7 linked regions of the Homo sapiens genome follow. The protein of the gene in region 4 purifies or fractionates together with the protein of the main gene of each other region. This does not show direct contact. Each region holds a gene or a part of one and is shown on either strand. Other genes may lie near its edges. The genes, in order: CAP2, FBXO38, TPR, STYX, RRBP1, COA6 and LRPPRC.

The links.
Region 1: the proteins of STYX (region 4) and CAP2 purify together in Homo sapiens (affinity purification with mass spectrometry, with the first as the bait; one large-scale study listed by BioGRID). This does not show direct contact.
Region 2: the proteins of STYX (region 4) and FBXO38 purify together in Homo sapiens (affinity purification with mass spectrometry; 2 studies listed by BioGRID and IntAct, with this or other methods). This does not show direct contact.
Region 3: the proteins of STYX (region 4) and TPR purify together in Homo sapiens (affinity purification with mass spectrometry; one study listed by BioGRID and IntAct). This does not show direct contact.
Region 5: the proteins of STYX (region 4) and RRBP1 purify together in Homo sapiens (affinity purification with mass spectrometry; one study listed by BioGRID and IntAct). This does not show direct contact.
Region 6: the proteins of STYX (region 4) and COA6 purify together in Homo sapiens (affinity purification with mass spectrometry; one study listed by BioGRID and IntAct). This does not show direct contact.
Region 7: the proteins of STYX (region 4) and LRPPRC purify together in Homo sapiens (affinity purification with mass spectrometry, with the first as the bait; one large-scale study listed by BioGRID). This does not show direct contact.

The regions. Positions count from the first base shown.
Region 1 is NC_000006.12:17,501,261-17,505,206, forward strand, and holds part of CAP2 (adenylyl cyclase-associated protein 2), read left to right. Parts: intron 1-99; exon of another isoform or gene 100-727; intron 728-1,953; exon of another isoform or gene 1,954-2,088; intron 2,089-3,946. UniProt on the Homo sapiens protein: Involved in the regulation of actin polymerization.
Region 2 is NC_000005.10:148,439,220-148,443,165, reverse strand, and holds the end of FBXO38 (F-box only protein 38), read right to left. Parts: intron 3,520-3,946; coding exon 3,374-3,519; intron 2,743-3,373; coding exon 2,639-2,742; intron 2,043-2,638; coding exon 1,929-2,042; intron 1,198-1,928; coding exon 1,019-1,197; 3' UTR 330-1,018; downstream 1-329. UniProt on the Homo sapiens protein: Substrate recognition component of a SCF (SKP1-CUL1-F-box protein) E3 ubiquitin-protein ligase complex which mediates the ubiquitination and subsequent proteasomal degradation of PDCD1/PD-1, thereby regulating T-cells-mediated immunity.
Region 3 is NC_000001.11:186,351,254-186,355,199, reverse strand, and holds part of TPR (nucleoprotein TPR), read left to right. Parts: intron 1-1,349; coding exon 1,350-1,512; intron 1,513-3,089; coding exon 3,090-3,224; intron 3,225-3,729; coding exon 3,730-3,870; intron 3,871-3,946.
Region 4 is NC_000014.9:52,728,575-52,733,050, reverse strand, and holds the start of STYX (serine/threonine/tyrosine-interacting protein), read right to left. Parts: upstream 2,886-4,476; 5' UTR 2,577-2,885; coding exon 2,520-2,576; intron 1-2,519. UniProt on the Homo sapiens protein: Catalytically inactive phosphatase. Acts as a nuclear anchor for MAPK1/MAPK3 (ERK1/ERK2). Modulates cell-fate decisions and cell migration by spatiotemporal regulation of MAPK1/MAPK3 (ERK1/ERK2).
Region 5 is NC_000020.11:17,615,887-17,619,832, forward strand, and holds part of RRBP1 (ribosome-binding protein 1), read right to left. Parts: intron 3,843-3,946; coding exon 3,747-3,842; intron 2,794-3,746; coding exon 2,710-2,793; intron 954-2,709; coding exon 846-953; intron 124-845; coding exon 40-123; intron 1-39. UniProt on the Homo sapiens protein: Acts as a ribosome receptor and mediates interaction between the ribosome and the endoplasmic reticulum membrane.
Region 6 is NC_000001.11:234,371,907-234,376,632, forward strand, and holds the start of COA6 (cytochrome c oxidase assembly factor 6 homolog), read left to right. Parts: upstream 1-1,549; 5' UTR 1,550-1,560; coding exon 1,561-1,772; intron 1,773-1,776; exon of another isoform or gene 1,777-1,812; coding exon of another isoform or gene 1,813-1,934; exon of another isoform or gene 1,935-2,323; coding exon 2,324-2,483; intron 2,484-4,726. UniProt on the Homo sapiens protein: Involved in the maturation of the mitochondrial respiratory chain complex IV subunit MT-CO2/COX2. Thereby, may regulate early steps of complex IV assembly.
Region 7 is NC_000002.12:43,943,940-43,947,885, reverse strand, and holds part of LRPPRC (leucine-rich PPR motif-containing protein, mitochondrial precursor), read left to right. Parts: intron 1-110; coding exon 111-155; intron 156-515; coding exon 516-629; intron 630-1,642; coding exon 1,643-1,773; intron 1,774-2,468; coding exon 2,469-2,554; intron 2,555-3,946. UniProt on the Homo sapiens protein: May play a role in RNA metabolism in both nuclei and mitochondria. In the nucleus binds to HNRPA1-associated poly(A) mRNAs and is part of nmRNP complexes at late stages of mRNA maturation which are possibly associated with nuclear mRNA export.

The sequences.
Region 1 (3,946 bases), on a different chromosome or scaffold from region 4:
CCAGTAATTACATCTACACTTGATCTTAGCCAAAAGGCCGAGAAGCAATGAATAATTACATCTACGGGAAAAAAAATGAACACCAACTTTTAGCACTACTTTTTTTCCATGTGGTGGAATGCAGAATGTTTATTGTTTACTTATGTTTTACGTCTGTATTTTTCAGTGTTTCACGAAGAGCATATATTGATTTTTATAATCAGAAAAAGAAATTCGTTAAAAAGAAGTAACAATGACTGAACCATTTTCCACCTGATACAGAACTACATGAGAACCATGGGTTCCAGAAATAACAGGCCTATTTTGTTTTGCTCAGTGATACATCTTTGAGGTCAAACTCCCAGAGTTTGTGCCGTCTCTTACAAAACAGCCTGAGTGGGAATCTGGTTTTCCTTTTTGGGTAAAGTTTCTACAAAGCTTGCTGATAAAACTCATCTTACTTTTGCAAAACAATTCCCTTACTTTGGGAGCCAAACAGAGATGAAGCTGATAACAGGACTCAGTTCTTCAACTTTAAAGCAGAAGCTAGGGTCATAAAGACATGGAGTCCTAAAATACTCTTCCAAAGTACAGTCGCATCCAGCTAAGATAACCCTTGGAAACGTTTGCTGAAAACATGCAGTTTGTTCATGCATCTCTTCCATGTTGGTCCTTTCCACCTTCTGTCACAAGCCACAGAAACTAGGGGAAGGCCAGGGAGCAGGTTCAGCTCATCTTCACCTGAATTCTGAGAAATTATTGAGAATCAAAGAAACCTCAGTGAGACGTTAACAAAAAGTAATCTGAGTGACATCTATGTAAAAGTCATTGCAAAGCACACTAGCTGCTAGACATATCTGGGGAGCTACCACCAATGCACTCCCTTGACAGAAAACCAGGACACCTCTTAGATGAGCTCCTTCTTTAGTGGAAAACCCTTATGTAATTTTAATTGACATCAATGCAAATCAGCCTGTATTGATTGAGTGTGCCTAATATACGCTTAATACTGAAACAAGTTGAAGTACCTCTCATAGACCCCCCATTGACTTTTCGTCTGACATCCCACACAACCAGCTCCAGCTTTGATGGAAGTCACACCATCACTCTAATGTTCTCTTCTATTTTTGATTCCTGCCTTGAAAGTCAGGATGAACTGGTGAAGATAAGACTTCTTTAAAGTACAGGAGAAATCTATTGGCACAGAATAAAAGCACTAATGTTTATTAGAGTTGTGCAAATAGCTGTTGTACTTAGTTCTGTCAACATTGCTTTTTTTTTTAATGATGACAATTCTTCACATAATTGCCAAGCTAAAGCAAAAGAAAACTTTCTCAATCTTTATGATGCTTTCATCAGATAACCAATATAAAGTATCTTCCAGAAGACTCTGTCTCCTCAGACTTTAGAGTTTGTTCTAGGGAAGTTAGAGATAAACAAAGATGGCCTTAATAAATCTCTCTAATGTTATAAATATACAGTTTCTGGTTCTTTTTCCCCTTGGGGCAGTGGGCCAGGTATCATCAACAATACAGATATTCTGGCCTTTCTCAAAAATGTCATTACATTAAGAACATTATGACTTAGCAAATTGTTGGAGAAAATTAGGAAGCTTTTTTTAGTAGTTCTGCCATCATTAAAAATCAGCTGCCTTCTGGGGAAACTGATGCCACACCTTTGATCAGGTGTTGTATTTGGACTGAAAACAATCCCCCAAAGAAGGAGATGTTTGCTTTCTAAAGAATGAAGCTCCAGGGAGGGTATTTAAAACTGATTTTTGGCAGCCATTAACAAACAAGCATGACATAATTGTATTTGGGGCCAGGAGTGTTTAGAGGGGTTTTTGTTTGTTCTATTGTTGAGAATTTGGAGGTAAGGAGTCCCTGAACTGCCATTACCCCTGCATTGGTTTGCTAGGGCTGCCCTAACAAAGTACCACAGACAGGTAGATTAGAAACAACAGAAATTCCTCACAGTTCTGGAGGCTGGAAGTCCAGGATCAAGGTGACGGCAGGGTTGGTCTCTCCCCACGCCTCCTCTGTGTGTGTCTCTGTCTTCATCTCCTCTTCTTATAAAGACACCAGTCAGGCCGGGTGCCATAGCTCACACCTGTAATACCAATACTTTGGGAGGCCGAGGCGGGCAGATCACAGGTTGAGACCAGCCTGGCCAACATGGCGAAACCAAAACCCCGTCTCTTCTAACAATACAAAAATTAGCTGGGTGTGGTGGCGTGTGTCTGTAATCCCAGCTACTTGGGAGGCTGAGGCAGGAGAATTGCTTGAACCTGGAAGGTGGAGGTTGCAGTGAGCCAAGATCGTGCCGGTGCACTCCAGCCTAGGCGACAAGAGCAAAACTCTATCTCAAAAAAAAAAAAAAAAAAAAAGACACCAGTCATATTGGATTGAAGCCCACCCTAATGACCTCATTTTAATTTAATCATTTCTTTAAAGACCCTATCTTCAAATATGGTTGCATTCCCACCATATTTAAGATCCTTTCTCCAAATATGGTACTGGGGGTTAAGGCTTTAGCATATGAATTTGGTTGGGGGGCAGGTGCACAGAGTGCAGTCCCTAACAACTCTGATTCAAGGTCTTTTCACCAAATCCATAAGCCCTTTGCTTTGTAGTTGTCAGAAGGGAAAGAGAGGAGACAGGAAGATATTCATGGCTTTTCCACAAGAGCTGACTAGCTTCTGCAGCAAATGTTTTTGTTTTTCCCCTCCTTCAGTAATGGATAGCTAAAAAGTCCACTGGGAACCTTGAGAGCACTTTGCTTTCTTTCCCTGTATTTCTTTGTTTCCCCCAAACAGAAGTGTGCCTCTGTCCCTCAGCATATGTCAGTTAGGAAACCACTCTCCTTGTGTTTGCATATAAGGGATGGGAAAGAGCTAGTCAGTGAACTCGGCCAATCAGAGGCTTTGTAACTGGCAGATACCTTGGAGAAAACCAGCCACCTGTTGTGCACCCACAGTATACCTGACCCTTTACCAAGCATGACATGTTCTCTCATTTACTCCTCCTAACATACCTGTGAAGCAGGTACTGTTGTCAACCCTAGCTTGCAGATGGGACAAGGGAATCTTGGACAAGTGTGGTAATTGGTGTAAAGTCCCAGAGCTGAGTACACTGTGGAGCAAGGATTTGAACCCAAGAAGTCTCATTCTAGAACCTTTGCTCTTAATCTCTTCTAACACCTTTCCCTAGTCTTATTGGTAGAGAAGAAACCTGTATGTAGAGAACTAACCATATTTTTCTCAGCACCCAGTATCGAGAATTGTCTCAGGGCCTCCCCGAAGACCTAGCTTCCAGTTCCAGCTCCACTAATCATTGCTAGCTGGTCTTGACATAGTCAATTAACCTCTCTGAGCTCGTATTCCATATGTAAAATAGGAGAATTGGATTACGGCCATGTTTCTCAAACTTTTAGGCTAGATCCATAAAAAGAAATACATTTTATTTGGCAACCCAGTACACACACAAACACACACACACACACTTCATAACCAAAACAAGTGTTTAATACCAAAATATCCATCCTTATTACATGTGAATGCCCTCTGATATTTTCTATTCTAATCTATTTTCATGATTTTTAAATATTAATTGTGACCTATTCTATTGGATTTGTCAAAAAGCTGAACTAGGTGACCCAGTTTAGACTCCTGGAATCCTAAAATCCTGTTAATCTATATAGATGTCTGTTTGGAGCTTCTCATATCTTGAATGCATATTTATTTTAAACAAATGAATATCACATATTACAGGGGACAACATCCTTTTTACCTCTGGTATGAGTTAACTGCATCATGGAAATAATAATAATTACTTCTATTTATTGTGTACCTCCCATGTGCCAGGGCTTTAAAATGCAGTATCTCCTGTAGCCTGTAGGTGGTAGGTATTCTCTCTGATTTATAGATGAGGAAACTAAGGATCTGATTAAGTAATTTGCTCAAGGCCCC
Region 2 (3,946 bases), on a different chromosome or scaffold from region 4:
GGGTGCCTATAATCCCAGCTACTCCGGAGGCTGAGACAGGAGCATCACTCGAACCTGGGAGGCAGAGGTTGCAGTGAGCCGAGATCATGCCATTGCACTCCAGCCTGGGCAACAAGAGTGAAACTCCATCTCAAAAAAAAAACCAAACCAAAAAAAACAAACAAAAAAAGTTATGTGAGTTGAACATCTTGTAGCTAAAAACTTTCAGAGATCAGAAATTGGATTACACTGGAATCTTACCTTAGATACAACTCTATATATACACTGCTTTTCTGTGCAGTATTTGCTACTCTTCTTTAAAAAGAGGGATTCAGGTCCAAGGCAAGAGAAAAGTTTTTAATAAACTTTTATTTTATATTCAAGATAAAGCATATACACAATTCAATGTGGAAATAAATTACTAGAAATACTCTGGAAACTTTTCCATTTCCCTCTCAAACTCACTTTTTTTTAAGCTCATAAGTCTTTTTACTTGATTTTAAGAAACATGGCAACTATAATACTAAGAAAGAACTACAGCTTTGTACAGAAACATAGAGCCTTGTCTTGACTATAAGGTTTAGTTGGTGTTTTAATAACAACAAAAAAGCACAAAAGACACAAACACTCTTCAACAGGTTTACTCAAACAGCTTCGCTCAAGAAGAAAAAGGCACAGATTTAAAGGGATGACAATAATCATTAAGAATGAAGTAAATGGAGACTCAGTCAAAAAATGATACTTCATGAATTAAGTCAAGAAAAACAAAAGTCTTTCAAATTATCTGTCTTCCTTAAAATGAATTTTTAAATTAAATTGTATAAACATATGATATAAAGTTGGTACTTTAGGAAGCGTCTTTGTATATTTTTTATGTACAAATCTTTGTATACAATTTCGATGTTCCTTATATATTCCCTATATAGCAAACCGAGCCAGGACCTCCCAACTGCATGCCTCAAGTCCCTGTGGAGCACTCTGGCAGCTGGATGGCCCTACTTGCTTTCTGACAAAATAGCTGGAAAGGAGGAGGGACCAATTAAATGTAGTCATCTTCAACTGGCTCTCCATTGACATCACAATAGTGGATAAAAATTGCCACTACTCGCTGAAATACACCCTTCTTCATCTGACGCATCTCTGAAATTTCCTCTCCTATTGTTTCCATACAGATGTCTGCAGACAGCTGTCCTTTCCTTCTAGGAGCATAGATAGTGCCTTTGAAATTAGAAATAAAAGGAGAGATACATATGATAATCAGAATCATTTGGAAAATCACTGATAAGCTGGTCCATAGGACAGTCCCATATACTGCACTATAATGTAACTGATGCATGAATAGGTCAAGGAATGGGTCACCACCAGTTTGTTCTTATGTTTGATGCCTAAGACAGAATACATGCTTAAAGTCTCAAGGTAAAAATACTGCACCAAAGGCAAGTCAGACACATGCACATGTAGTTCATAAAATCCATTTCCTTATAAAGTATTTTTAAAAAACCTTTGGTTAACAATAAATATTCAAGTATGCTACCACTTAGAGAAACTACATTCAAAAATTTCTCCCCTAATTTCTACACCTAAATTATAAGTTTCCACACAATAAGCAGCTCATAACTAGCAGGAGAATAATACAATTGGAACAATTTTGAAACAATATAGTTGAAGTTATTTAATAAATAAGATTATAAATATTTAGGTAATATAAAAATCTTGTAGGAAAATCTGTCTAAAGGAATCCTTTCTACCAGCCTTTATATATCCCTAGTAAGTCCACTGAACATCTACTGCACAAATAAAGAACTGTTTTGAAGTGAGTAAATACAAATTATTTCTATGGGAAACCATTTAACACTGCACTGCTCCTAACTCACAAAAAGATATTAAGTATGTAACACAGTAGGCTATACTTAAACTAGAGAATAGATGTCAAGTCAGGTCATAATTACTTTCTTCATCGTCTTCAAAGTCGTATCGAGCGAAGCTGTTGGGCTCTGCAGCTCGTAATGACCTCAGCCAAGGGAAGTCAGAAATCATGGAATATGGAGCTCCATCCACAACACCTAAAAGACAAATGTAACATTGCTAACTGGCGTGGGAGTGCTGACAGAGCCAAATTCTGCAGTATTTTGTAAGCAGAATGTAAAATATAAAATAAAGAGAGTGAGTCAGGTGTCCTCAAATCATTTCCAGCTATCAAACTAATTTGTAATTTCTGTTTACGTTTTATGTTTCATCACTGGTTCTGATTGTCCTAGAAATAGTAAAGACTCATACAGGCAAAGCAATCTTCATCTGGCTCCCACTTCTTGCAGGTATTAAAATCATCCATATTTTGAAGAACTGTAGGACCCCCATTCATATCTTCCCTAAGGCATGTTCGGTCATCTAGTTAATAGCTATTCAACTTTCTTTTTTTAAAAAGTGTAATTCTCTACATTTGGGTTACTGCTTGCTGTAAGCCCAAACCAGTTTGACTAATTGATTGATGGATCATTCATTCATCCGTGAATGAGAAAGGGCCAGGTTTTGTTTCCCAGGCCGGTCTTGAACTCTTGGGCTCAAGTGATCCTCCCACCTCAGCCTCCTGAGTCGCTGGGATTACAGAGGTAAGTACTGCACAGGCTATTTAACTTTCTAAACATTTGTAAATACTCACCTTCTAAAGTATAGATTTCTCTCCCCCAGGGGTACTTGGGGTATTTCTTTAAGTCTTCTTCACTTCGAGTGGCTTCAGGGAAGAATTCATATTTAATGAGCTCTCTGGAAGCAACAGGAAAAATTAAGTAAAAATTACAAAACTGGAAATAATTAGTGTCGGGTAGGAAGGAACCATCAAAACTGTTTCGGACACAGATTCTACCGAACATCTCAAACAAAACATCAAATACCTAACGGAAGTAGGATACACTCAAACTAGAGAATCCAAGTGTAGTCAGGTCAAAACTACTTTCTTCACTATCTTCAAAATCATATCAGGGAAAGAAAGTCACTTTCTAAGCATATGTCTTCTACACAAAAGGTGCTTAATGCAACATTTATATAACAAATTTATAAAAGTCAAATTTTCTGATGATATAGAATATCATAGTCTTAAGATCTTCTTCAAGTTGATCTCTTTTTCATGCCCCAAGGCTAAATAATGTTACAAGTACATGTGCAATCTGTTCTTGTAATTTTTACCTGAGTTTTAAAGATCATAAATATATACACATGCTTTTTAGTTTTAAGTCCTCATTTCCCTCAGTTTCTTACTTACGTTAACTTCAGGATAAGCTTGTTTGAAAAGCTTAGATGGAATCATTTAAAATAAAGAAAAATTGGGATTTGCTTCTGGGAGTCCCTGCTATGAGAAATGACTCAAAAGGCCTTTAAGGGCCACAAAGTTACTTACTGATTGATGTTTGCTATAGTGTCCATCCAGCTGCGAATGCGCACCTTATTCCGGACATTGGGAGGGTTACTGAATTCATGGATAATACAGATGTGATAGGGGTAGGGACCACTAAATAGCTTCTGCTCCAAAGTTAGAGTGTCCACCTGTGGAAGACATCATAAAGAGATGTCTTCAACAAAGAGAATGCCTTAGAAATCTCTCTCCGAGAGCTTGAACAATCTTTCCATGGACCTTCAGTTTTGAAATCTCTGGCTGATTTGAAAATCAAATAGTCACATTCAGACCTGAAAACAGTCTGTCATGCTGGGAATAATTTTGCAAATTCTTCTGTCTAGGGAACTTGGCAATTTATATCTCACTGTTATATTTAAATGCCTACTAAACCAGAGAATCCTGATTGAGATAAATGACGTCAGTCAACTCAGAATCCACTTCTGTGTATGTCCTTTATTAAGTACTGACTGCATTATAGAACTGTGAATGTGTAGTAACATATACCCTATTCAAATGAGACTGCTGCCCAGTCTTTAAGAGAGAATGCATTTTCTTGTCTTCTAGGAGCCTTTGATA
Region 3 (3,946 bases), on a different chromosome or scaffold from region 4:
GGCGCAGCAGCTCACGCCTGTAATCCCAGCACTTTGGGAAGCCGAGGCAGGTGGGTCATTTGAGGGCAGGAATTCAAGACCAGCCTGGCCACCATGGTGAAACCCCATCTCTACTAAAAATACAAAAATTAGCTGAGCGGCAGTGTTGCATGCTTGTAATCCCAGCTACTCAGGAGGCTAAGGCAGGAGAATCACTTGAGCCCAGGAGGCAGTGGTTGCGGTGAGCCAAGATTGGGGCCACTGCACTCCAGTCTGGGCAAGAGAGTGAGATTCTGTCTCAAAAAAATAAAATAAAATAAAAATAAGTTGAAGTTCATGTGAGGAATGTTGGTAGTTTACCTTCCTAAGATTAAAGGACTTGTTTCGGTAGGACTTAATTCTTTTAAAAATGCACCAGATGATGAGAGAAATGAGAGCAAATTTTATTCCACCTTTTCTATTCTAGGTAGAAGAGAAGCAAGTGCTATGTAGTTTTAGGAGAATTAATTTTCTTGGTCACATCCAAAGAAATAATAAATATTTCATGATTATTTGTTATTAAATTCATTGAATGCTTGTTAGTTTAGTTTGTTAGGACAATATTTATTTTTATATAGTACATGATAAAACTGTTTCTGTTTTATAGCAGGCAGGATATATTGCAGGCAGTTACCCCTATACATCTAATAGTTCAGCAACCCCAATTAAAGCACTTCTTTTTTCTCTGTTGATACCTCTAGCCAGCCATTATGTCAGCTTTCAAGCACATAAGAAAATAAAACTGAGGATTATAGAAGAAAAAAGGATTAGCAAAAATCCATCACTAACCCTGTATAATAACTTAATTTGTATACTGCATTGTAGTGGGTGTCTGGTGTTATCAATATTGCATTGTCATTACTTTAAATATAATTGATTTTTTAAAAATAAGATTAAAAAGTTACTTAGCATGAAATACTTTGCTTACTTAGAACTTGAACCACTACATTTGGAATTGGGAAAAAAGAATGAAGGTTTTACCTTATTACACAAGCCACTTCTTCATAAATCATAAAATTAACCCCTTTCCCATTTAGAAAAAAAAAAGTGCAGCTTGCTGCCAGCGCTCATTTAATTTTACATAAGCATGCTGTTTGAGGTTGAGGCAAATCTGACAGATTTTCAGTGTGAAAATAAAATATAAAAACTGTTCCTGGAGTTATTTCTAAGCAGAATTCAACTTAACAGAAATATGTATGATGTTACATTAGGATTAGAGACAATATTCTCAGGGCATTTGGGGAAATGGGTTAAGCTATTGTGAAATTTCTTCAAGGGATTAAGCTAGGATATCATTTCAGTTACTTGTAGAATTACTTTTTTCATACCAGTTATGAAATGCTGCAAGATAATGTTGAAGGATATCGTCGAGAAATAACATCACTTCATGAGAGAAATCAGAAACTCACTGCCACAACTCAAAAGCAAGAACAGATTATCAATACGATGACTCAAGATTTGAGAGGAGCAAATGAGAAGCTAGCTGTCGCAGAAGTGAGTCCAATATCCCTTGTCCAACTTGCATTATAAGTTGCATTTGACATTTCTTTAGTTTTTACTTTGAATTTTACTCACTGATAGGACTTAGGTATTTAAGAAGTTTGGAGGTTACACCAAGTAATTAATACATAGTTTGCAAATAGCCAGTGTGCGTTAGTGGGGTGATTGTTTCTATTAAGATAGAAGAGGGAAAGGAATTTGTTTTTCTGCTGGGCTAAGATATACTCGCAAGTCTTGCATTTCAAAATAAATTTGTAGGTCAGTGTTTGGTTCTAACAAAGACGTTTTTTTTTTTGGTTTTTTTTTTCTTGAGACAGAGTCTCACTCTGTCGCCCAGGCTGGAGTGCAGTGGCACGATCTTGGCTCACTGCAAGCTCCGCCTCCCGGGTTTACGCCATTCTCCTGCCTCAACCTCCTGAGTAGCTGGGACTACAGGTGCCCGCCACCACACCTGGCTAATGTTTTGTATTTTTAGTAGAGATGGGGTTTCACTGTGTTAGCCAGGATGGTCTCGATCTACTGACCTCGTGATTTGCCCGCCTTAGCCTCCCAAAGTGCTGGGATTACAGGCATGAGCCACAGTGCCTGGCCAGACGAATATGTTATTCATTCTTGCTCATCTGTAATAAAAAGCAATATAAAAATTACATTGCATTGAATTTATATTTCTGAATTTTAACTTGAATATAAATGTCCATTTGAAATTATTACTTTTAACTAAATACTTAGTTTTGTGATGATAAATTTTTTATATAGTTTTCTTTGTTATTCAGTTATCTCTTCTGTCTTTGATCATTACTTGTAAGCTAGGTATAGTTGTCCCCCATTTTACCTGTGTAAAACAGACTCAAGAGCTAATGTATAATTTGCCTATTTTGGGACAGTCATGAGAGATGGGTTGGTTAGGACTTGAACCCATGTCTTATAATGCTCTTATAAGGCTGTATTCTTTATTTTTATCTTGCTCCAACTCCATTGTGAGGAGTGGGCAGCAGCACTTTTTCAAACTGGTAGAGTGAATTTTATCATTGATCATTTATATGAATCTGTGTGTAAATATGAGTACTTGTGTGTAAATATGAGTACTTTGAGCTTTCAAAACACTCTCCCTGGTCCCCTTGAGACTCAGACTCTTGGGGTTGAGGGGAGGGAGAAACTTTAAATAGATCAATCATCACTTTTAAACAGGTACTTTGAAACCGGCTTGGATTCTAAAAGTTACATAATTTAATAGTAGTCAGGTATGAATGATTACAGCAGTCATGCAATTCTGCTTTCTTCTTCTCACATATTAAATTTTTCTTGCTGTTATTTTTTAAACTGTGGATTGTTAGAGCAAGGAACCATAAGTATTTGTAATTGAAAGATTTTTTCATTGATGATCCCCAATAATTTTTGCTTCGTATTTTAGCACATGAAACTGTTTTGTATTTCCTTATACAATGAGGAGATATAGTCCCTAAGAGCATTAAAAAAAAGTAGTGATGTATGAATCATTTTAATTTTATAATCTTAATACACTTGACACCATGTTTTTCAGCATTTTTTATTTCATTTCTACTTATGTTTAGGTAAGAGCAGAAAATTTGAAGAAGGAAAAGGAAATGCTTAAATTGTCTGAAGTTCGTCTTTCTCAGCAAAGAGAGTCTTTGTTAGCTGAACAAAGGGGGCAAAACTTACTGCTAACTAATCTGCAAACAATTCAGGTAACCAAATAAAAAGCCTATGTAGAAAAAATGTATAAAAGTTAAATTTAGATTTTTTTTATCCTCTCAATTTCCTTAATTAGAAAATTTATCCATCACTTTTGTCATCCATTATGATCATTGAATTTTGCAGTTTATTAAGACATTTAAATATTTTAAATAAAATATTGAAAGAGAATTGATTGAAACCATACATTGGTAAGTCCTCAGGTATATTTACAGTGTCCTGTGCAGTTTTACTATTTATAAGATTAATTCTTTGGTTTTTATTTTCTTTAAAACTTTGGGAAATCTGAATGACGATTATAATACATTCCATCTCTTTCCTGTATAATAGATGTTTTAATATAAAAAATACCAGAATACTTTCTTGATAAATACTGTAGATTTTAGCTGCTTCATGTAGAAATGGGTTGTAATATTGTAATTCTTTCTTGCCTTCAATTTTTATTTTTTTGTATTGCCTTTTTCTTAAGCATAACCAAAAATCTTTTCTTTGCTTTAGGGAATACTGGAGCGATCTGAAACAGAAACCAAACAAAGGCTTAGTAGCCAGATAGAAAAACTGGAACATGAGATCTCTCATCTAAAGAAGAAGTTGGAAAATGAGGTGGAACAAAGGCATACACTTACTAGAAATCTAGATGTGAGTCCATCAGAGTTCTGAATTTCTGTAGGGTGTTTATGTTCAGTAATTAATCTGGTGTGTGGACAGTCTGCCA
Region 4 (4,476 bases):
GGGACTCCTCTACATTATTTGTAAGGTTGCTTGCAGTTAAGTGCTGAAATTACTGAATCATTTTGAGGATATGAAAGCATACTCCTTCGCGGTGGCTCAAGCCTGTAATCCCAGCACTTTGGGAGGCCGAGGCAGGCGGATCACTTGAGGTCTGGCGTTCCAGACCAGCAGGGCCAACATGGTGAAACCCCGTCTCTACTAAAAGTACAAAAATTAGACGGGAGTGGTGGCGGGCGCCTGTAATCCCAGCTACTCAGGCGGCTGAGGCAGGAGAATCTTTTGAACGTGGGAGGCGGAGGTTGCAGTGAGCGGAGATCACGCCACTGCATTCCAGCCTGGGCAACAAGAGTGAAACTCCGTCTCAAAAAAATAAATAAATAAATAAAAGCATACTCTTCATTCACATTATTGTATGTTAAGTATAAATTCATTTTTATAACTAGCCTAAATATGACCTCCTGTTTTCTAAGAGTATATTGGCCGGGCGCGGTAGCTCACGCCTGTAATCCCTGCACTTTGGGAGGCCAAGCCAGGCGGATCACAAGGTCAGGAGTTTGAGACCATCCTGGCCAACATGGTGAAACCCCGTCTCTACTAAAAATACAAAAAAATTAGCCCGGTGTGGTAGCGGGTGCCTGCAGTCCCAGCTACTCGGGAGGCTGAGGCGGGAGAATGGCGTGAACACGGGAGGCAGAGCTTGCAGTGAGCCCAGATCGCACCACTGCAAGATCATTCCAGCCTGGGCGACAGAGTGAGACTCTGTCTCAAAAAAAAAAAAAAAAAAGCTGGGCCTGGCGGTGCGCGCCTGTAATCCCCAGCTACTCAGGAGGCTTAGGCAGGAGAACTGTTTGAACCGGGACCCGAGGCAGAGGCTGCGGTGGGCTGAGACAGCGCCACTGCACTCCAGCCTGGGGCAACAAGAGTGAAACTCTGTGTCAAAAAAAAAAAAAAAAAAAAAACCATGAGTATATTCTTGGGCCAGGTGCAGTGGCTCACACCTGTAATCCCAACACTTTCGGAGGACAAGGCGGGAGGATCTTGAGGCCAAGAGTTCGAGACCAGCCTGGAGAAAAAACCCATCGCTACAAAAAAAAAAAAAAAGAAAAATTAGCCCGGCATGGTCCCAGCTACTCCAGAGGCTGAGGTGAAAGGATGGCTTGAGCATGGGAGTTCGAGACTGCAGTGAACCGAGATCACACCACTGCACTACATTTTGCAACAGTGATAGTCACAAACAAAGTCTCTACTCTTAAAACAAATGTAATTGTCAAGCATCAATACCACAAGAGAGCCCTCCAAACAAAAATGTGAACCTAGGCCGGGCGCGGTGGCTCATACCTGCAATTTCAGCACTTTGGGAGGCCGAGTCGGGCGGATCACAAGGTCAGGAGATCGAGACCACCCTGGCCAAAATGGTGAAACCCGTCTCCCCTAAAAACACAAAAATTAGCTGGGCGTGGTGGTGCGCGCCTGTAGTTCCAGCTACTCAGGAGGCTGAGGCAGGAGAATCGCTTGAACCCGGAAGGCGGAGGTTGCAGTGAGCCGAGATCGCGCCACATTGCACTCCAGCCTGGCGACAGAGCAAGACTCCGTCTCAAAAAAAAAAAAAAAAAAAAAGTGAACCTCCAATGAAGATATTCAATAGAATAAATATTCGGAATAAATTGAATGGTCTCCTAAAAATAGGGCTTTATTTTTCCCAACTACTTTAAAGGTATTTTTAACTAGCGATGTTAGATTTTCTTTCTTAATCCTACTAAAGTATAGCTGAGTATCTTCGTCTTGTTAATTTAGCCTCCAGAAAATTCTAATTTAGTAGTCTGCAATGCCGTAAAATGTTAAACTAGCAACAGATGAAAAAAAATCCGAGTAGAAACAGCAGGCAGGGATCTAAGGTGGAGTAAAAATAGCCACAAATTAGAAACCAGGAGAAAAGGTATATAGTATTTTACTTTCAATATTAATTTTCCTCCAAAGGTCAAGATTTCTGATTAAGAGTTCTCAGATTAAGATGAGCTAGCTTTGAGACACTTTGTTGTGCGGGTCATAGCTTTGTCTAAAAACAAACAAAAAACTTTGGGAAACTTTTCGAAGGCGCGCTTCCAAACTTCAGGCGCCGAGTCTATTTCACATGTGGGGCCATGTGTCCCACAAGTGAATCGTTTACACCACAGATATTCCTCAAAAGGAGACTAAACCAACTTCGCTCTCTTGTTACTTTGACAATAAAAGAGGAACCTTACTCCAGGTCAGTCCTGGATGCCAAGCCTAGGGACTAAGGGATTGCTTTTCCTCTTCTCAAATGTAAGTACACCAGACGCTGCCCCTCCGCGGGGTCTGGAGAGGACGAGCAACTCAGTGGGGATTGGAGCCGACCGCTCGGCTTCAGAGGTCCCGGGACGCCCTTAGGAGGCAGGGCGCCCGTACAGGTGGCGGCTAAGACGGTTGGGGACTGGGGTCGCCCCTCGGCCGGAGCCACAGGGAGAGGCCTGTGCGTGGCAGCCACGGGAGCGACTCACCTCGGCGTCTTCCTTGCACTGTGGAAGGGAAGGGAACTCCAGCTTCACGTCCTCCATGGTGCTGGCCCGCGGGCTGGTGGGTGGGGTGGGAGAGTGTTACACAGCCGGCCGACCCTCGGGCTGGCTGCGGCGGCGGAAGGAAGGAGGGCCGGCGGAGCGGAGGGCTGACAGGAGGGCGGCGGGATTACAACTAACACACGCAGACTACAGGGTCCCAGTGACTCCAGCAGCGGCGGCGGCGAAGACAGGGAAGAGGAGGGTCGGGCGTCTTACACCCGGCCGCCATGCCGCTGCCGTCTCCCTCCCCCAGAGTCTCCGTACCCCTCAGGCCGCCCAGGATCCAGCACAGGAACCAGCCCGACAACCGTCTCCCCGCCTCCTTCCCGCCCCCTCCACCCGCGTCGCCTCAGCCAATCCCAGCCCACGCTCGCCTTCTGCCCGCCCTCCGCCGCCGCCAGGTGTCAGCGCGCCACCGCCCTGCTCCGCCCCTTCGCTAGAGCGCAGACGCTTGGGGGTGGGGGGGGCGGAGCCTCGGATGCTGCTAGGCCACAGCTCACCCGGCGTGGAGGAGGCGGGGCTGCGGTGGGACAGGACGAGTGAAGGTCCTGGGAAAGGCAGTGGGGCGGTCCGAGCCAGCTCCGCCCTTTCCAGACAGGACGTAGAGCCCTTCTTTAACATAAGAACAAACAGGCAAAACAGGCTACCCACCAGTGGCATCCGAAAGGAAAGCTATAGTTTCTCCCCTCTCAAAATTCTGCGCAATCTATGCTGAGTTTATAACCAAATGACTAATAAATGAAGAGTTCAATTTAAAATCACGTGGTGCCATACAGAAAATAAAATACCCATCACCTTTAAGCAAAGAATTAAACGGCTCAATTTAAAATTTTTTAAAGTATTTTAAGAGTACTTGAAAATACAACTCAGTTTAGATTACCTAGAAAATATCAAGAATGGCAACTAGAAAAAAATCAGAAAAAGGAACTGATAGCTGACTCAGTAAATTGTATATAATACTGTAAAATTTCTTCCATTATTATATTTTGAAATAAAAATAATAAACCAGATGGCTTTCAATATCTTTTAAAAGGAGTTTGCCAGCCTGAGCAAAATAGTAAGACCCCCCTCTCTAAAAAACAATTTTAAAATTCCCTGGGTGTGGTGGCGTTATGCCTGTAAACCCATGGTGAAAAGATTTGGGCCGGGCGCGGAGGCTCACGCCTGTAATCCCAGCACTTTGGGCGGCTGAGGCGTGTGGATCACCTGAGGTCGGGAGTTTGAGACCAGCCTGACCAACATGGAGAAACCCCGTCTCTACTAAAAATACAAAAATTAGCTGGGTGTGGTGGCGCATGCCAGTAATCGCAGCTACTTAGAAGGCTGAGGCAGGAGAACCGCTTAAATCCGGGAGGCGGAGGTTGCAATGAGCTGAGATAGTGCAATGGCACTACAGCCTGGGCAACAAGAGCGAAACTCCATCTCAAAAAAAATCAAAAATAAAAAAAGAAAGAAAGGATTTGTACACCAAATTGATTCTTTAAAAAACCACCGCCAGCACAAAGGTAAAAGGCAAGATAGTCACTCCTTAACTAAATGCAAATTATAAGTGAAAAGATCACATAGATATTTGACTTAAACCTCCCCCTACATTCTACTTTTTGTCACATAAAATGCACTGCCAACACATAGAAATAGAACTGTACAATAATTTGAGTATGAGATGGCTAACTTGACCACTCCATTTTCTATTTTAACTGTTCATCTTCTAAAATTATAAAAAGGCACATAATATCCTGCTAGGAAGTTTTTAATTTGAAGAATTATTGTATAATTAGCTAGGTCATGTATTTTTGGTTCTTTAGTGTTTATGAAACTGAAGTTGTCTTTTCTTTTCACCAGCATCTTTAATAATTATTGATGCCCAATGATGATTCCTTTGTGTACTTTGTTATAGCTT
Region 5 (3,946 bases), on a different chromosome or scaffold from region 4:
GGGCTGATGGGGGCTGAGAGCCACCAGGCAGGGCCTGACCTCCTCAAACTCGGCCGTGAGCTTCTGCCGCTGTGTCTGCTCATCCTCCAGGATGGCTTCTGTCCACTCCAGCTGCGTCTTCAGCTGTGCAAACACCGCAAACATAACCCGGCAGCCCGGTGAGGAACCCTCCAGGGGCCCAGGGATCCAGCACAGGCACCGCTCTCTAGCTGCTTCTAGCTTCCCCTTTCCCTGCCCCAACGCTCCCCTCGTTGGGGAGAGGGCACCTCAGCCCCTGGTACAGACTTCGGTGTGGCTCAGGAGCAGCTGATGGGGCCTCTGCAACCTCAGGGGCCTTTAACGAGACTCACAGGACAAGAACGATGCCTCCGAGCCCTGGCCCCATGACAACCCCCTTAACAGCCACACCATGGCCACCCCAGGGACAGGCCCTGCCTCTTGGTGAGGACTCTTGGTGGCTATTGCCGGGCTCAAAACTCTGGAGAGCGAATATCCTGCTAGCGATGTCCCAGCCGGGGTTGCAGTGGGAGACAGTCCCCTTCGATGGCTGCAGACCCTGCCCAGAGCTGCTCCTGAGCCCTGTAGGTGCAGACCCCAAATCACGGACTCCCTCTTCGAGTCCCACCTCCCCCCAACTCCTCCAGCCTCTCCACCTGGCCACCTTTCTGTTCCATGCTCTGTGGCTTTCTCCGAACCTGGATGATCCAAATGGGGCAAAGCAGGGTGGGGTGGGGAAGCAGCGGAGGCTGGAGCAGCCAGTGCGGGGTTTAGTCCGAACGGAGGCAGCAGGGCCTGCACTCTTCTGGGATTAGTGATGTGTCTGGGGACCAGCTCACCGCCCTAACCTGAACGGGGTCCTGCTCGGCTGGGGGCGCCTCTGGGGAGGAAGCTGGGGCCCCAGCTATGTCACCATCCTCTACGTGGCTCTTCATTTCACTCAACTGCTGCCTGACCTGGAACAGGAAGGGGTGTGTTTGCAAATGCACAGCCAGTCGCACACCCACCATGCTCACTCCTGCAGGGACCCCCTCGGAGGACCGTAGCTGCTCTCAACAGCCAAAGTCCCTTCAGGGGACCTGGCTTGGTAACTGTGACCTATGTCTGGCCACCCCCGCCGCCAACCTGAGCCAAACCAAGGCCACCAAGCCTCTGGGCTAATGAGACCCAATGTGCTCTGCTCCAAGCCCAACCGGAGGGGAGCCCTCCCTGGGAGTGAGGTGACCCCTGATGGGCATGGCCCACAGAGCAAAGGAATCCGAATGGAACCGGGGGGTGGCCGCCACACTGTCTACACCCCCCGTTTCTCCTTCAAGGATGCAGTCCACTGCTCAGAGCCCTTTCCGGGGTCTAGAAAAGATTATGAGATAACATTCTTGCCTAACAAGGTCCCCCACCCCTACGCTCCATCACTGGGGTTAGGTGGCATATCTGGCTGCACCCAAACCACTGGGCCTGCAATTTGAAGGGCAGGTGTCACTCGAGAGGCTCAGGTAGAGGTTCCAATTGGAGACCCAGGTGGGGCCCTTGGCATAAGCTCCCCAGGGAACATGGGCGGTCTCTGACCCTGCGCTGAGGGGCCACCCCAGGTACGTGGGAACCCCAGACATTCTTCCCTCCCTCTGAACAGCCCCTCCCAATGCAAATAACGAACTGCACAGCTGGAAGACAACAGAAACTCCAGGGGGTTTTCTCTGCACATCCCCGGCCTGGGCCATGCCCCCGGGGCCTGTCACCCAGACTTCGCTCAGCCAAGGCTTCAGTGAGTGGCCCCTAGACACAGGAGGAGACCTGGCCTAGGCAGCACTGCCCTCTGGTGTTCTGGTCCGGGTAAGACCTGAATGACCAAGGGGGACCGAGGGTGTTGGGAGCGTGTGCCGGACTCACTGGCTGCTGCAGGGGGAATGCCAGCCCATTTTTATTTAAAATTTCCCAATTTCTCCCTGTTGACAACTAATTCAAGATTTAAAAAAACACCGCAGATCAAACAGAACATGTCTGCGGCCTCACAGGGTGCTGCTCACAACACCAGCCTTGGGGCGGTACCAGATCCGGTGAGGCTGGGTGGAGCCTGCCAAGGAGCTGGGACTTGGCATCAGACACCTGAGCTGAACACCAGGAGGGACTCAAGAGGCCACCTGCACAGGCAGAGCTCCAGTGGTCTGCCAAGGGGGCTGCTCTCTGCACCCGGCAGCTGGTATGGGGCCGGGCGTGGAGCAGGTCTTCCCTGCATGCCTGTGGCTTTGACTGAATTGATCTGAGCTGTCACTGAGGTGAGAAAACCCACAGAAGGCACGGGACTTGCTGAGAGCCCCAGGGCGATGGGTGGCCAGGCCAGGAGGAACCCCCAGGCTTCCTGGTCTTGTGATGCCAGGGACTGCAATATCCCTGACGCCCCCAGGTGACTACAATGGGCTCACAGGGAATGCAGACGCCCAGAGCTCTCACTACCTTGAACAGGGGACCAGGTAGCCAGGGGACGGGAGATGGAGTGGGAGCACCCTGGTCCCAACAGCCACAGGCCCAGCTCAGAGTTCTGGGCAAATGTGCAGGAAGGCCCCCAGAAGCCGGCCCCATGCTGCTCAACGGGTGACACTGTCCCTTCCCTAGGCTTTATCTTTGAGTGGACACAAACGCATGACTGGCAAATGCATCTCACACACGCAACGCCCCAGGTCACACTCCTGGCATGGGGACATGGAGGCCACCTACCAGGGCAAGCTCATCGCTCTGTTTCTGGGCTTCGCTCTTGGCGGCATCGAGCTGAGATTGAGATTCTAGGAGAAGTTGCCTCAGCTTGGGGAGAAAACAGAGGCGGGTGATGGGAAAAAAGGAGAGAAAAGGAGAAAACCAGTCCCCGTGAGTTAGCGCCGAAACATAAAACCTAACACATCCACTTAACCAAAACCCTGAGGAGGGTCACAGCATCGGGCCGGCACAGGGCTCGCCAGGCTTCCTACAGCTACGATTTCTTTTTTGAGGACTTAGGAAGAATGGTGTTCACTGCGTACCTCTTTCAGGCCTTCACAAATGTTTACTGATTATCTCTGGCAAAAAAGGGCCAAAAGTTGGAGATGATTTTTTTTTTCAGAGATGGTCTCAATCTGTCATCCACGCTGGTCTTGAACTCTTGGGCTCAGGCAATCCTCCTGCATCAGCCTCCTAAGCAGCTGGGAACGGAGGTGCCCACCAGTGTGCCTGGCTTTTTTTTTTTTTTTTGGTAGAGATGCGGTCTTGCTATGTTGCCCAGGCCGGTCTCAAATTTCTGGCCTCGAGCAATCCACCTCAGCCTTTCAAAGTGCTGGGATTACAGGCATGAGCCGCTGTGCCTGGCCCAAAAGTTTGAGATTAAACCAGAATTGGGATACTGGGCTTGTGCTTCTGCTTCTGAAGAGCAGAAAAAGTGTCAGATCTAAATCCACTCCCCACCAGATATGACATCAGCAAGCCAGGCAGAGAATCCCCTTGCGGAGGGATAACCTAGAACGTCAAACGCCTCCCTCGGGGCAGGGCTGCCTGGCTCTGCCCCTGTCCTGGCTGGGAGGCTGCCTTTTTGAAACCTGCCCTGAGAGACACCTCAGGCCTGACAGCCCAACGAGGGGCCTGTGAGGCTTCGGGCAAACGCCTGAGGACTCGGACTTCAAGGCTTATGTCACCGAGAGCTGCTCCCACAGGGCTGAGGAGAAGCAGCTCAGGGAGGACCGCAGATCTGCTGGGCAGGGGCTGCACTCCTTGGGGGGCAGACTCACCCCTGCCACCTCCTTGGCGTAGTTCTGGCACTCGGCGCTGGCGGCCGCCATGTGCTTTTCCAGCTCTGCCTCCAAATGCGACGTGTGCTCCCTCACCTGGACAGATGCACAGACACGCACACGCATGCGCCAGCAGCCTCTGCTCAAAGGGCACTCACCTCAGGGAGCAGGCTGGCCCTGGGATAGGTGAGGCCTCTCGG
Region 6 (4,726 bases), on a different chromosome or scaffold from region 4:
TCAGTTTCATCCCACAGGTGTTGCTATTGTTATTTTATGGTTCAGTTCAAAATATTTTCTCAATACCATTGACTCTGTCTCTGTGTTATTCAGGCTTGTTTTTACAGTTCTTTATTGATTTCTATCTTAAATGCACTGTAGTAAAAAATGACAATTATTTCAATTTTCAAAATTTCTTGAGTTGCTTTATAACTAAGTATGTGGTTGACTGTGGTGATGTGTCTGCTTTCAAAAAACTGTACATTCTGATTTTGGTCGTGTTGTTCTGTACATATTAATTGCGTCATTTTTACATCATGTTATTCACGTTTCCTATATCCTTAACTTTTCTCTTGCTAGTCTTAACGATTAGTGAGAAAGTCCTGTTAAAATTACCCAATATGACCAGGCATTTTTTTTCTTTGTAATTCTGTCACTTCACTTTGTTTCATATGTATTTTTCATTAGGTACTTATAAATTTTAAATTTAAAACACATTTCCTTTTTAGACTCAGAAGTCATCTAAGACTCTTTCCTTTCATTCCTTTTATATCCCATCAGTCATATTTAAAAGATATCTATATGTAAACTGACGTCAATAGACATGATGTAAAAGAAGGGGGTGGCTCTGGTAAAGCTAAAGTAACTCCACTATGAGAGTGCATTAACTATGGGGGAAATACTTTCTATATTGCAGAACACATATTTGGTGGTACGTAGCCTCACATCGCCACCCGGAAAAGTCTGCATATATTGAATTTGGAATGGATCAAACTGCACTGAGTGCAAAATTGTAAATTGCATCTTATATAAATGTTTTAGAACTAGATGATGGAGCAGATGGGATCTATTAAGAGAACGGGGTGCCAGATGACTGACCATAAACATGCTTTTTAATAAAGACTCTGCTGAGAGATTAACTCATATATTTTCTAAAATTTTTATTTCTTGTTCATTTTGTTTCTAAGATATTCACTCACATATTAAAAATAACAACGTCTCAAAACATTTGAAGCAACTCTCTTCATCCCTTTTAAAAATACCTTGCTGTTTCGGGGGTTAAAAAAAGCCACAAGGGAGATTAAAACAATACAAATATTTATTTTCCCAACTCCCCTGCCATGGGTTCTGGGACGTCACCGCCTCTTTCTGGGGCCCGTTTCATCCTTTTCTTTTAATCCAAGAAGCGATGGTGTTGTGCGCCTGTAGTCCCAGCTACCTGGGAGGCAGGCTGAGGTGGGAGGATCTTTTGGGTCCAGGATTTTGAGGCTGCAGTAAGCCGTGTTCTCACCACTGCACTCGAGACTGGGCGGAAGAGCGAGACACTGTATCAAAAACAAAACAAAACAAAACGAGAAGGCATCGCGGCTCTGTAACACTCCGTCCAGCTCTCGCACTCTCAGATGCAAACTTCCACACAAACTCCTCGGCTCGCCTTGTCCCGCGGGACTAGCATATCAAGCCTTCCGGGACACACCGTGCGATGATATATACGTATATACCCCTCTTGCCCTTGAAGGCCGGAAGTCGGTCTTACAGATAAAAGCGAAACAGGAAGTCCCGCCCCTCTATGGAAAGTAAATGGTAGCTCGGAAGGGTCAAAAGAGTCCGCGGTTTCGCCGCGTGAGTTGCTTTTTGCGGCTGGGGAGGTCTACGCTTCTAGAGCTTGAGCCAGCGGGGCGACCCTGCAGTGGCAGGACTCGGCACCGCGCCCTCCACCGCCGGTTGGTGGCCTGCGTGACAGTTTCCTCCCGTCGACATCGAAAGGAAGCCGGACGTGGGCGGGCAGAGAGGTCGGCTTGCTGATGGGTCCGGGTGGGGCGCGCGTGGACTATGGGCCCGGGAGGTCCCTTACTGTCCCCGAGCCGCGGGTTCCTCTTGTGCAAAACGGGGTGGCACTCCAATCGCCTGCTTGGTGATTGTGGCCCCCACACACCTGTTTCTACAGCGCTTAGGTTCGAACAGTAACCCTGTAAACTAGGCACTGCTGTCCCCGCTTTACTGGTGGGAAACGGGCTCGGAGAGAATAAATGAGCTGCCCTAAGCGACTGGGACAGAACCACAGTTCTCAGCCGGGCTTTCTGAGCCCACGCTGCCGCCCCAGCAGGGATCAAATCACACAGTGTGAGATAAGCCTCAAGAGCGGGTGGCCTTATGCTGCCACTGAGAACTGATTGGGTTCAGTTGCCTCATCAAAATCCCTAAGCATGGTTTTGTTTTGTTTTTGTTTTTTTTTTTTTTTTTAGTTTTAAAGGAAGAGGAGATTGACGGTTTTCCTCTTTCCTTATCTTCTCTTCAGATTACAAAGTTCATTGTTAATCTCAAATATTATTTTGGCCAACAGCTTCATCGCAGTAGGAATGGCAGCCCCATCTATGAAGGAAAGACAGGTCTGCTGGGGGGCCCGGGATGAGTACTGGAAGTGTTTAGATGAGAACTTAGAGGATGCTTCTCAATGCAAGAAGTTAAGAAGCTCTTTCGAATCAAGTTGTCCCCAACAGTGGGTAAGTCACACTTTGATGTGTTTCTCTTCCCTGTTAAGATACATCGAGCTTATACTGTGAGTGGTAGGCTGACATGAAGCGCTCTCTGAGGCATGTCAATTAACAGTTTCTTTGAGGCGCAGAGAAAACCTTGCCTGGTAATTCAGCCTTATTTGACGCACTTACATCAGCTAGATCTTTGGAGAATGTCAACTGACACATTAAAGAGCATCGAAAAACACAACAAACATATGAACAGTAACCAAAAAATTCCAGTTCATTTCACTGGTAGACTTTTCCAGGATCTTCTGAAGGGGTAGTATTTAATCTTGGGCAGGAGTTGGCAAAATTATTGACCTAGAGCTACTATCAGAAATAAAGCATTCCCAGTTGCTCACCCAAAAATCCTGTAAGTCATCATATACCCAAAATATAAAGAAAGGAGTTTGGTAAGCAGAAGAAAGAAAAGGTTCATATGGTGGATTCTGTCTCCCTGACAGGCATTCAAGCGCTGTATCCCCTGTCCTTAGTATAAGGGGGGATTGGAAAGAGGACTATTACTGAGGTTAGTAAGTGGCCATGTGTGCTAAGTGCTTGACATTTTCATCTTCACCAGTACCTGTTAAGATAGGTGTTGTTGGCTGGGTGCGGTGGCTCACGCCTGTAATCCCAGCACTTTGGGAGGCTGAGGCGGGCAGATCACGAGGTCAGGAGTTCAAGACCAGCCTGGCCAACATAGTGAAACCCCATCTCTACTAAAAATACAAAAAAAAAAAAAAAAAAATAGCTGGGCATGGTGGCACATGCCTCTAATCCCAGCTACTCAGGAGGCTGAGGCAGGAGAATTGCTTGAACCAGGACCTGGGAGGTGGAGGTTGTAGTGAGCCAAGATCACGCCACTGCATTCCAGCCTGGGCCACAGAGCGAGACGTTGTTATTCTCTATCTCCAGAGGAGGCAGCTGAAGCTCAGAGCATTGAAGTAACTCGCTTGTTATTACTCAGCAAGTGGCAAAACTGTAATTTTAAGGCAGGCCTAACTGGCTGGTGTGGGATTTGAACTTGGATTTGCCTGTGCTTTTTCACTGTCTTATGCTGCTGCAAAATATACCATGTAGTTGGAAAACAGATACTTTTAGAGTTGAAGTGGTTTTAGGGGTTTTGCCCTCTCATACCTCAAACCTTTAAAAGGCTCTGAAGGAGGCTACAAGAAGGCTGTGATGCAGGGAGGGGTCGTATTGGTGGCTGAGCTGGGGATGAACACAGTGAACAGAAATTACTTTATTTTTCTTTCTTTAATTTTTAGAGACAGGTTCTCAATCTGTCACCCTGGCTTGAGTGTAGTGGCGTGATCATAGCTCACTGCAGCCTTGACCTCCTGGCCTCAAGCAATCTTCCCGCCTAAACCTCCTGAGAAGCTGGCACTATGGGCATTTGCCACCATGCCTGGCTAATTTTTAAAATTATTTTGTAAAGACAGGATCTCACTATGTTGCCCAGGCTGGGCTCGAACTCCTGGGCTCAAGTGATCTTCCCACCTCGACCTCCCAAAGCACTGGGATTAACAGGCGTGAGTCACCACGTCTGGCCAGGCATTGCTTTAGATGAACTCTTCATCTGTAAAACCAGCCTGTTACAACCTATCTCGTGGGATTGTTATGACAACAAAATGCATAACTTGACATGTAAACTGAAAACTGATCAATGTGGGACTCTATGATTGAATTAGATAATGACTCCAGAAGAAAATATTATACATCTGTAGTTTTCCCATTAGACAGATGCATTGAGAGGAACTCCAGGTTTAAGGAGTTCCCCTTCGATCCCACTTTTATCCTCTCTCTCCTCCTGCAACCCACTGCTTTTTCTCCAGCCTGATGGCTCCCACTCCCACACTTCCGGGGCAGCTTCCAGTCTGTGTGCCAGAAAGGGTTTTTACAACCAGCCATTTGGTTCTTGATCGTATGTACATCTCTCTCACTCAAGCAGACTGGGTGCCATCCCCTGAGGCCCCAACCTCTCTCCAGGTCACTGCGTCCTAGTCACCGCTAACATGAATTGAGTACATCCTCTACACTCTACACTCTACACACTTGAAATGTGTCATCTATCTTATTTATCCCTCGTGGAACTCTCTTAGCGGTTTTATAGGTAAGGGCACATTGACATGAAGTCACCTGTAGTAACAGAGCCTGGATTTGAACTCAGTAGTCTGATTCCAGACCCCACATACTTCTTCCTATGCCTACCATGCAAGAAAAGGATC
Region 7 (3,946 bases), on a different chromosome or scaffold from region 4:
AGATGAAAAGTAGTAATATGAGGTGAGACTTACAAATTTGCTTTTGATGTTTGCTGATGTATTTTTACGTGTGTTTTCTAATTCTGGGCTAATTTAAATTTCAATTTTAGGATGCTCACTTGTTGGTTGAGAGTAAGAATTTAGACTTTCAAAAAGTAAGTAGGATTTTGACTAGATTCTACATGCTATAATACCCATATTTAATGAGTATTCTGGATTGTGTACTTATAAAACCAGTGATTCCTCACATTTTTATCATCTTGTATACCTCTAAGAAGTTGGTAAAACCTGTTCCCCACCTCAGAAAAATCAACATATCTAAGAAATTTGCATATAATCTCAGAAGGTTTGTAAATCCCTGGAGTCCATCCATGGATTCCCCAATTAATATCCCTGATAGCATTTATGACATTTAGGAAGGTAGAAAGGAAAGTCAGTTTAAAGGGAAGAGTGACAAAAGGCATACTATATTTCCTTTTTCAGGAAATTTTTCTTTTCTTTTTTCTTTTCTGTAGACTGTGCAACTTACATCATCTGAATTGGAGTCCACACTTGAAACACTAAAAGCTGAAAATCAACCTATAAGAGATGTCCTAAAGCAACTCATATTAGTGCTTTGTTCAGAAGAGGTAACATTTGTTTTAATATTTAAATATTATTAAGGCAAAAAATTCTTGGTAACAATAAGAAAAACCAAATATAATATTTATGATTTTTACAATTGATCGTTATATGTCAGGCTTGTAAAGAATGCAATTAAATGAAAGGTTAACTAATTTCAGCTACACCTTGAATGGCATGTTTTCTGGTTGCTGTAGTTTGTTTACGATAATCTGCAAAGTGAATGATAGTAACAGCTGTGATAGGTTTATCATACATGCCAAATGTCCTTTCAAGCCATGGCTCCGGTCTCTTATATCTAGATTGTCAAGCAACTGATACACGCAGTAGTCATTTGCAAGTCAAATATTACTAGGTTGTTAATGCAGGGATTGAAATTCCATTTTCCTGCTGGAAAAAAGCTCTTTCTGAGATAAAGGGTCCCTTGCCTTTTTTCAGCGGGCATCCAGCTGTACTTTGTGTTCATTTTAGTGTATGTCTGCAATTTGTGGGATATCACTAGACTATTTTTCACTTTCTAGTTCAATATAATTGAGCCATAAACTTGTAGTTTTAGGGAAAAAATATCATGACTAACTTTATGATTATAATCTGCTACTGTTAAATTCTAAAATATTTCTTCATATTACTTGGATACTAAACTAGACTGAGAAACTTTTCAATGATACATATTTCTGCATCCTGAAATTAGACTGTGATTAGGATTTGATTTGGGAATTACTTAATCTGGAAGTCTTTTTTAAATAATACCATACACAAAGCCTAAAACATCAAATTTGGCATAAATAATGGCCTATTTTATATTACAGATAACACATCTTTTAACCCCTACACGTGTAAGACTTGCCCACTTCTTAGAGGTGAATAAAAATATCAAGGGGCAGAGTCAGGTTGTTAACATGAAACCATTTATTTTTAAAGTACTATTAACTTTTTCTAAACTCTGAACAGTAAAGCTAAAAATGTGACATTTTTACCTTCACACTGATTTCTTCTTTTTCACATCTATGCTGTATTTTAGAATATGCAAAAAGCCCTTGAATTGAAAGCAAAATATGAATCCGACATGGTTACTGGTGGCTATGCAGCTTTAATAAATTTATGCTGTCGACATGATAAAGTAGAAGATGCCTTGAACTTGAAAGAAGAATTGTGAGTACCCTGGCACTGAAACAAGTTGTCAACATTTATTCTGCTCTACAGACCTTGATAGATTATCTAGATGGAATATTACTCTCTTATATAATGTCATTTTTAAAAATTCTTTTGTTGTCAGTGTTTTTGAAATTTCGTATTATACGGCTCTTTAATTAATTGTGGCTTATGTTCAGCAAGGTGTCTTTGTTTAAGTATGATAAGACATTCTAGTCCTTAGAACCAAAGGTTTTTTTCCATTGATTATATATCATCACAACAGTGGTGATGGTGGTAACTGTTTTAAGAGGCTTGATAACATTTCCCTTTCAATATTGTAGTGTAAATAAAATTCTATCCATTTCTCAGGTACCTTTGGCTTCCTATCCTGTTAGATTTTTCAAGTAAAAATGTCAAGTATTCGTGATGAAGGTTAGAATCACTTAAAGCCAAAGAGTTTCTTCATAAGTATCCTTTGCAGATGGAGTGATGCAATATATATGTAGTGTTGGGCTTTTACTTCACTAGTCACTTTGAATATAATTTCGTGTGAACTTGTATATGGCTTCAAAAAGAAATCCTAACTGAAGCGTAGAGGCCAACATTAGTTCAGGTCTTCTGATGAGCTTTTGAAAAGTGATTAAATGGATGTTGCTGTTCTTTTAGCAGTTAATTGACTTTTAAAACAATATAAATGTGGCTTTAATTTTTAGTGACCGCTTAGATTCATCTGCTGTCCTTGACACCGGCAAGTATGTAGGCCTTGTAAGAGTATTGGCAAAGCATGGCAAGCTCCAAGGTAAGCCTCAGCACATAAAGGAAATATGTGATGCAAGTATCTTGCCACTGGAATAACATGTGAATTGATATTAATGGATATCATGTCCTGCAAAGTGCTTGAACACTTTGCATAGAAATTTGCATGTGAATCCAACCAGAGCTACATGGACAGTGTAGGCCATTAGTTTTAATGGATTGGCAAGCTTGTCATTTACATTTGCACAGCTCAGTGCTTTTTGCATTTCTGCAGCTAGTTTTTATTAGCATTGCTGTTTGGATTGAGTTTGAAGATCATGACTTATGGCACAATTTGCTTATGTGCCTGCACTAATGGCTTTGTTTTTGCTTAAGAAGGTCTGAAGGCTGAACGTAAAACCTATAAACGTAAAACCTATAAACATAACCTAATATATGCGCCTGAATTTTGCAGTAGTCTTTGCCTTACTTTTTAATAACATTAACAAAATATATACTTTAAAGTTTTTATTTTAATTAAGGTTTTTATTTAATGGTTCATGGAAAAAGCATAGCTGATTACACAGCTGATTTGCATACTCAAATTTTCTCGTTGAGATAATGCTAAGCCTAATAAAATTAATTACACTTGATAATACATTCATACTATTTTCTTGTTTCTTAACTTTCTGATTTGGCTTTATTTTGAAATTTCCTTTTTAGCCTTCCTCTTTTCCTTTGATTTTCAGAAAAGATTGTTTTAATTTTATTATAGGGAAAAATGTATGGAGAAAATCATTTATTAGAACATTGAATGTTTTCCTAGGACGCCTTTCTAACTCTTTCTAAGGATTAGCCTATTTTTTTAAAATCACTTTTTGTAAAGTGGTCAAAACATTTTGTCTGTGTAATAATTAAGAACAACATTATAAAAATGCACTTATTCCATATCCTAAAATGTTTGTTTCTGCCTTCCTAATGAAGCTTAATGAATCTAATGTATTAACATGCAGTCTTTTGGAAAGCTTTCATTGGCTCTGCTTGGCTAATTAGTATCGACATAGCAAACAGGCCCTATCGGTATCAGACCATTAGTCTGGCTGTATATACAGTGTAAACACATCTTTATTATCTGGCCTCCTGACAAGCCATCTGCTGAAGAAACAATGGTGTGATTTAGCAGATGTTAGCTCTGAACGATAAAAGCATCCATTTAGGAGGATCTTACAGCTATAGGGCAGACCATACAGGGTTATGTGGTACAGAGTGGGCACATAGTCCCTATCTATAATTTGTAGTCAAAGTTGCAGGGAAATGATAAAACCATGCTATTGTGGATTTATAATTGTAGTCTCGTTTAGAAATGCAAGTAGTAATTAACTTGAAATCGGCATTATACACTAGAATTTACATTCCTGCTGGGCTTGAAATGCTGTTTTAATAGCAGTTTGTTTTC